2 linked regions of the Homo sapiens genome follow. The protein of the gene in region 1 purifies or fractionates together with the protein of each later gene. This does not show direct contact. Each region holds a gene or a part of one and is shown on either strand. Other genes may lie near its edges.

Region 1 (3,500 bases):
TTATGCCATCGGCTATTATCTCAAGGAAAAGAAGGTAACCAGAAGAGGCCGGAAGAGAAAGTCCCTGGGAATTCTGCTGCTAGTGGAAGGGCAGTAGGGGTTGGGGGCTTCAGCTGAGACCCTGACAGTGTGAAAGGGCTGATGTCCTGAAGAGAAATGCTCTCCCCTCTCTTCCTTGCAGTGCTTTCCTAAGGGGGTGGACATGATGGCTGCCCTTGATCTCTACTTCCAGGTAAGAAAACACTGCTCAGGGCCGAGGGAACAGGACAGACTGTCCTTGCCCTTGCCCTTTCCCTACACCCGAGGGTCCCATGTGCAGGTTCACGTCACATCTTCACCTATTCTTTGTTTTCATAGCTGTGTTCTGTGGAGGTCACTTGTGAATCAGGCAGTGTCATGGCAGCCACCCTCGCCAACGGTGGGATCTGCCCCATCACAGGCGAGAGTGTGCTGAGTGCTGAAGCAGTGCGCAACACCCTCAGCCTCATGCATTCCTGCGGCATGTATGACTTCTCTGGCCAGTTTGCCTTCCACGTGAGTTTCTGGCTCTGCTATCCATCTGTCATGAGCCCAGTGCTAAGAAGAGAGAACACTGACTCTCTCAAGATAGAGGTGGAAGCTTGTTCCTGCCTCTCATTCACTAACTTCCAGGAAGGCAATTAGGTTGAGACTCCTTAGACGAGTTTCTCAAAAACACCAAGTTCCTCGAATATATAAAGAGATGTCTTTGGGAGGCCGAGGCAGGTGGATCACCTGAGGTCAGGAGTTCGAGACCAGCCTGACCTACATGGTGAAACCCCATCTCTACTAAATACAAAAAATTAGCCGGGGGTGGTGGTGTGCACCTGTAATCCCAGCTACTTGGGAGGCTGAGGCAGAAGTGCTTGAACCTGGGAGGCAGAGGTTGCACTGAGCCGAGATTGTGCCATTGCACTGTAGCCTGGGCAACAAGAGCAAAACTCCATCTCAAAAAAAAAGAAAAAAAGAAAAAGAAAAACAACCAGAGGTGTTGCAGCTCCTGAATTGTGCTTCACATTGCTGGCTCTTCTCCTTGGGGTCTCAGCTTAGATGTCATTTCCAAAGAAAGACTTTTCTGACCACCCTATCTCATGTGGCCCCCCTCTACCTCTATTTACAGCACCCTACTTCTCACTATTTATCACAATTACTTTAAACATTACGTGTCTATTTATTTACCTGTTTATTACCTATCTCCTAACACCAGAATGGAAGTTCCTAGTTCTAGCACAGCATCTAGCACAGAATGCTGTAAGTATTTCAAAAAATATTTTCTAGCTGAATCAATGAATTTAAGGGAAGGAAAGGACAGGAGTAATAAAAGAAGCTAATTAACAAGCCAAAAGGTTGAGGTGGATTGTGGTCATGCAGTCATTTGTAAACTTGTTAAGAGTACAGCCTAACTTGTTTATTTTCTGATTTGGGGCACACCCACTTTATCCTCAGCTTCAGTTCTGTTCCCCAGGTGGGCCTGCCAGCCAAGTCAGCTGTATCAGGAGCCATCCTCCTGGTGGTACCCAATGTCATGGGAATGATGTGCCTGTCACCCCCATTGGACAAGCTGGGGAACAGCCATAGGGGGACCAGCTTCTGCCAGGTGAGATGCTTTGCATATAGTACTTACTATTTTTGAAGCAATAAATTTGTTTAATGGTACCACTTTTACTATAATAAAGCAATTTTGAGCTCCTACTAAGTGTAAGGAGTAAATAAACAATATATTTGGCTTACAATTCTAGAAGTTGGTGTCTCTCTTCAATTTCCACAACTATGACAACCTGAGGCACTGTGCTCGGAAGTTAGACCCACGGCGTGAAGGGGCAGAAATTCGGGTAAGGAAAACTCCAGGTGGCTTGTAAGAATATTTCAAAGGCCAGGTGCGGTGGCTCACGCCTGTAATCCCTGCACTTTGAGAGGCCAAGGCGGGCGGATCACAAGGTCAGGAGATCAAGACCATCCTGGCTAACACGGTGAAACCTGGTCTCTATTGAAAATACAAAAAATTAGCCAGACGTGGTGGCACGCGCCTGTGGTCCCAGCTACTTGGGAGGCTGAGGCAGGAGAATCGCTTGAAACCGGGAGGCAGAGGTTGCAGTGAGCCAAGACCGCGCGCCACTACACTTCAGCCTGAACGACAGAGCGAGACTCCGTCTCAAAAAAAAAAAAAAAAAAAAGAATATTTCAGAGTAGCACATTCCATAACACTTCAGCAATACCCTTGGACTAAGCATCCATGGAGGAGGGTCACAGGGCACAGCTGGCATAGGTGAGTTCAATTAATGTCATGTGGGTATGATTTGTGTTCCAGAACAAGACTGTGGTCAACCTGTTATTTGCTGCCTATAGTGGCGATGTCTCAGCTCTTCGAAGGTAATGCTACTGTGACCAAATATACACAATAAAATACTCCTGGTCAGAGATTTTACTAGGAGGCAGCGTAACAAAATAGTTAAGTGCTTCAGCTTTGGAATTAGAATGGATATAGATTGCATTTAAATGAAATTTTTTTAAAAAAGGAGATTTTTTTTAAAAAAAGTAAACTGTCTGCTCTATGATAATTAATGTTAGCCATTGTTATTGAGTGTTAAGAGCAGTGTCCTAGGAAGTAGGTACCCTGCCTCAAATGGGCACTTACCACAGGTAGGCAGTGAGTGATATTTCTGGAAGGATCACATTCCCATCTCTCTAATATGAGTATAACAGTCTCATCTGGATATGGAAAAAAGATTATTCAGAGCCAACAAATCTGGCTATAGGCTGTTTCACTTTCTCTGAAACTCATCCAGTCTGACACCAGTTCACAAAGAACACCTGTGATTCCAGTCTGATCTAGGCAACTCTAGCTGCTTTCCCACTACCCTCAGGTTTGCCTTGTCAGCCATGGATATGGAACAGAAAGACTATGACTCGCGCACAGCTCTGCATGTTGCTGCAGCTGAAGGTACTGAAGGGTTAAGGAGGGGAGGAGGAGGGTAATCATAAGACCCTTTCTTTTTCACCAAAAGTACCTTCATTATATGTGCCCTCAAGGTTATAGGGGCAGCAACTAGTTTTATCTAGACACCCTTCGGTTTGCAGCTAGACTATGACTGAGTGCTGCAGGGTACAAAATGGGAAGAGGCCTTTTCCCCTCCCCTCTTGGTAAAGACTTCAGTGGCTAAGTGTCTGCACCAAAGGGTTCAAGACCTGCGCCTTCTCATTTTCCTTCTGCCCATATTCCTAGGACACATCGAAGTTGTTAAATTCCTGATCGAGGCTTGCAAAGTGAATCCTTTTGCCAAGGACAGGTGAGGAATAGGCTAAAAGTGGAGGAGGGTGGGCACAGCTTCTCCACCTACCCTCCAGCCACCATGCAAATATATACAACCACCACTCTCCACGTCTCCTTTGCCTGATCATATCATTATTCCTCTCAGGTGGGGCAACATTCCCCTGGATGATGCTGTGCAGTTCAACCATCTGGAGGTGGTCAAACTGCTTCA
Region 2 (3,500 bases), on another chromosome or scaffold:
AAAAATTAGCCGGGCATGGTGATGTGCACCTGGAGTCCCAGCTACTTGGGAGGCTGAGGTGGGAGGGTCGCTCGAGCCTGATCGCTTGAGAGGTGAAGAGTTGCAGTGAGCCCGCTGATCACGCCGCTGCACTCCAGCCTGAGCAACAAAGCAAGACTGTGTCTCAAAAAAAAAAGATCACAGCTGTGCTATTGTCTCTGCCATTTTTAGCTCTGTGATTGTGGGCAAGCTAATTAACTTCCCTTCTGATTTTAAAGTAAGAAGAATGTGAGGAAAAGCAGTTTAAAAACTGTAAAACTTTAAGTAGGCTTAAGCTCCAGGGAAATTACAATGCGTTTCGATTGGAAAGGCTTACCTGAATACTTGGTACCTAACCTCTCTTGGATGACCAGTCAATATTGCTCAATGTTTGAGGCTTTGTGCCTGTATCCAAAATGTACTGATAGAAATCACTTTCTAGGTCACAGGTTATCAGCATGAGTTTTGCCCCTAGAACACTCCTATTTTCATCTACTCGATTCCTTTAAAAACATCAGAGTTCTTACAATATGTGTGTAGTCTTTACCATTTTAAGAAATGGAATAATGAAAGGCATGGAGGAGTTGAAAGATGGTTACTAATGTGGGGCTAATCAAATTGAGTATTCCCTCTAGGCCAGGTGCCGTGGCTCACACCTGTAATCTCAGCACTTTGGGATGCTAAGGTAGGAGGATCACTTGAGCTCAAGAGTTGGAGACCAACCTGGGCAATATGGCACAACCCCATCTCTACAAAAAACTAGCCAGGCACGGTGGCACACACCCATAGTCCCAGCTACTCGGGGAGGATCACTTGAGCCCGGGAGGTAGAGGCTGCAGTGAGCCGTGGTCACGCCACTGCATTCTAGCCTGGGTGACAGAGTGAGACCCTGTCTCAAAAAAAAAAATTGTATCCCTCTAGGAGGGGAACAACAGACACTGGAGCCTACCTGAGGGTAGAGAATGGGAAGAGGGAGAGAATCAGAAAAAATAACTGTCAGGTACTATGCTTATTACCCAGATGATGAAATTATCTGTACACCAAACCCCCAGGACATGCACATGTACCCGTGAACCTGAAATAAAAGTTAAAAAAACCTCCCATGCCTCTGCCCTTCAGATGCTAGTAGCACCTGCTTTCCCCCAGAGTTTCAACAAACAGAAATGTCTCCATAAATTGTCAGTGTTCCCTAGCTAGGCAACCCCTTCCTCTCTCTCTGGCTAAGAATAACTTTCCTTGTGATCTGGATTATAAACTTGTCTCAAGCAATAGATACATAGTTTTCATACCTGTGTTCTTTAATCTGTACTTCATTTTCAATCTCAAAACTAGCATTGTAATTGTAAAATGAACATAATTTATTACATTTTTAAAAAAAAAATTGAGTATCCCTGCTCCTATATTTAGATTGTTTAAAAATTCAGTATTTTGAAATTGTGTTTAGAATTCTTAAAAGACAGAGGCTGGAGGGCTGGGGCTGAGGGAGGGTGGTGGGCCTGCGGGGACATTCTTACTGTGCAAACATAGCGATAAAAACATGTCATTTTCCAAAGCAAAAACAAAAACAAAAAAAAAGAATTCTTAAAAGGTATACCAGAAGACACAAGTCTATGGTTTCTGAGTTTCTATGCTTAACATTTTAAAGAACTTGAAAAATAAGTGCTTTTCACACCATTTAACAAGAATGATGCTTTCTCTCCTTGTGGTAGGGAGCAATGGGCAGTGGCTTTGTTATGATTGAGGGTCTTGGAGGATACAGACCATTGTTTTTTCTTTTTCTTTTTCTTTTTTTTTTTTTTTCTTCCTGAGACAGGGTCTCTATGTAGCCCAGGCTTGTCTCAAACACTAGGCTTAAGTGACCCTCCCACCTCAGCCTCCTGAGTAGCTGGGACTACAGGCAAGAGCCACTATGCCCAGCCAGACCATCTTTTGAAAAATGAAAACTTTTCCAGAAGTGTTCTCTTTTATAATCTAGTATGTCCTTGACATTCAGGGTATTCCTTTCACTCGGCAGTTAATGACAGTGATGTAGATAGACAGGTGGCTGCATGTTTTCAGGGTCTGAATTGTGGATAAGTAATAATGAAAGCTTTCTTCAGGCCCAGTTCAGAAGTTGGTTTAAGGTATCTGTGCTTCTTACTATTGCCTAGGTACTAGGAACAGCCAAGCAACCTAGAGCCACAGCAACACAAAATGAGAGGCAAGCTATTAAAAGAACTGGCACCAACACTAGTGAGGGGGAAGGGTGATAATGGCAGTGTCTCCTGATTCTCTAGAAAAAACTATGCAGTAGTAATTGAAAAGCAGAAAAGGGCCGGGTGCGGTAGCTCACGCCTGTAATCCCAGCACTTTGGGAGGCTGAGGCGGGCAGATCACTTGAGGTCAGGGGTTCAAGACCAGCCTGGCCAACATGGCAAAACCCCATCTCTACTAAAAATAAAAATAAAAAAATTAGCCGGGCGTGGTGGCGGGTGCCTATAATCCCAGCTACTTGGGAGGCTGAGGCAGGAGAATCGCTTGAACCCGTGAAGTGGAGCTTGCAGTGAGCTGAGATCGTGCCACTACAGTTCAGCCTGGGCAACCCAGTGAGACTCTGTCTCAAAAAAAAGAAAAGCAGAAAAGGTTGGTTGGAGGGTTGTGGGTTATTGTTAAACTGATTAACATTGTCTCCCCCCACAGCCATGCTTGATTTGCTTTGTATTTAAAGAGAAAGAAAAACAGAAAGGACCTGCATTTGGTCACAAGGTCTTACGGCTGCATATGCTCCTTGAATTCTCTACATACTGGCCTCACCAGGCTCTGTACTAGGATGCAGGATGGTTACAAATAAAAGTGGAGTGATAATAATTTAGTAACGATGACTATTAGCGAACATCAGGCACTCTGCCAATTTAGGTTTTGAGTGTTTTTTTCATCATTAGACCAGCCCTGTGAGATAGGTAGTTTTATGGCCCCATTTTACAGATAAGGAAAGTTGATGCTTGATTTACTTGCCAGTGCTCACACAGCTGGCAGGTGGCTGAGCTATTATTTGAATCCGTACAGTTTGCCCAGTACTGAAATTACCCAAGGCAAACTATTAAAAGAAACATTACAAGAAATAAGAGCCTGGGAAATCCAAAAAACTGGAAATAATCTGCCCTTTAATAACAGAGAATTGACTGTACACACTAATTAATTACAACGATTGAGACTGCAGCAGTCTTTAACTTGTCAAGGGAGCATGAATTAAACTCTGTACTGCCATCAAGTGTGCCCCATGGAGGAGTGAGGTGTATGAGTGCTGACTAGCCACAAGTACATTAAGAGAACCTTTGTTGGGAAAGAAATGTTCATGAGGTAATTCACGAGTTTATCAGCATGGTGAACACGGAGAACTTCCATGGTACCATACTGAAACATGTGGCTGATTCACAGTGGATGAGTGATTACTAGGAGAACTTGAGCGATTCTCCTGCAACAACCCCCAGCTCCTTCTCACC

What was found. The genes of interacting proteins can lie anywhere in the genome.
Region 2: the proteins of SPRYD4 (region 1) and GOT2 purify together in Homo sapiens (co-immunoprecipitation; one large-scale study listed by IntAct). This does not show direct contact.

The regions. Positions count from the first base shown.
Region 1 is NC_000012.12:56,471,578-56,475,077, reverse strand, and holds part of SPRYD4 (SPRY domain-containing protein 4), read right to left. Parts: coding exon of another isoform or gene 3,435-3,500; 3' UTR 3,306-3,434; coding exon of another isoform or gene 3,242-3,305; 3' UTR 2,960-3,241; coding exon of another isoform or gene 2,883-2,959; 3' UTR 2,389-2,882; coding exon of another isoform or gene 2,327-2,388; 3' UTR 1,851-2,326; coding exon of another isoform or gene 1,758-1,850; 3' UTR 1,616-1,757; coding exon of another isoform or gene 1,484-1,615; 3' UTR 535-1,483; coding exon of another isoform or gene 358-534; 3' UTR 233-357; coding exon of another isoform or gene 182-232; 3' UTR 35-181; coding exon of another isoform or gene 1-34. Other genes in the region: GLS2 (glutaminase liver isoform, mitochondrial isoform 1 precursor), read left to right, coding at 1-34, 182-232, 358-534, 1,484-1,615, 1,758-1,850, 2,327-2,388, 2,883-2,959, 3,242-3,305 and 1 more.
Region 2 is NC_000016.10:58,727,817-58,731,316, reverse strand, and holds part of GOT2 (aspartate aminotransferase, mitochondrial isoform 1 precursor), read left to right. Parts: intron 1-3,500. UniProt on the Homo sapiens protein: Catalyzes the irreversible transamination of the L-tryptophan metabolite L-kynurenine to form kynurenic acid (KA). As a member of the malate-aspartate shuttle, it has a key role in the intracellular NAD(H) redox balance.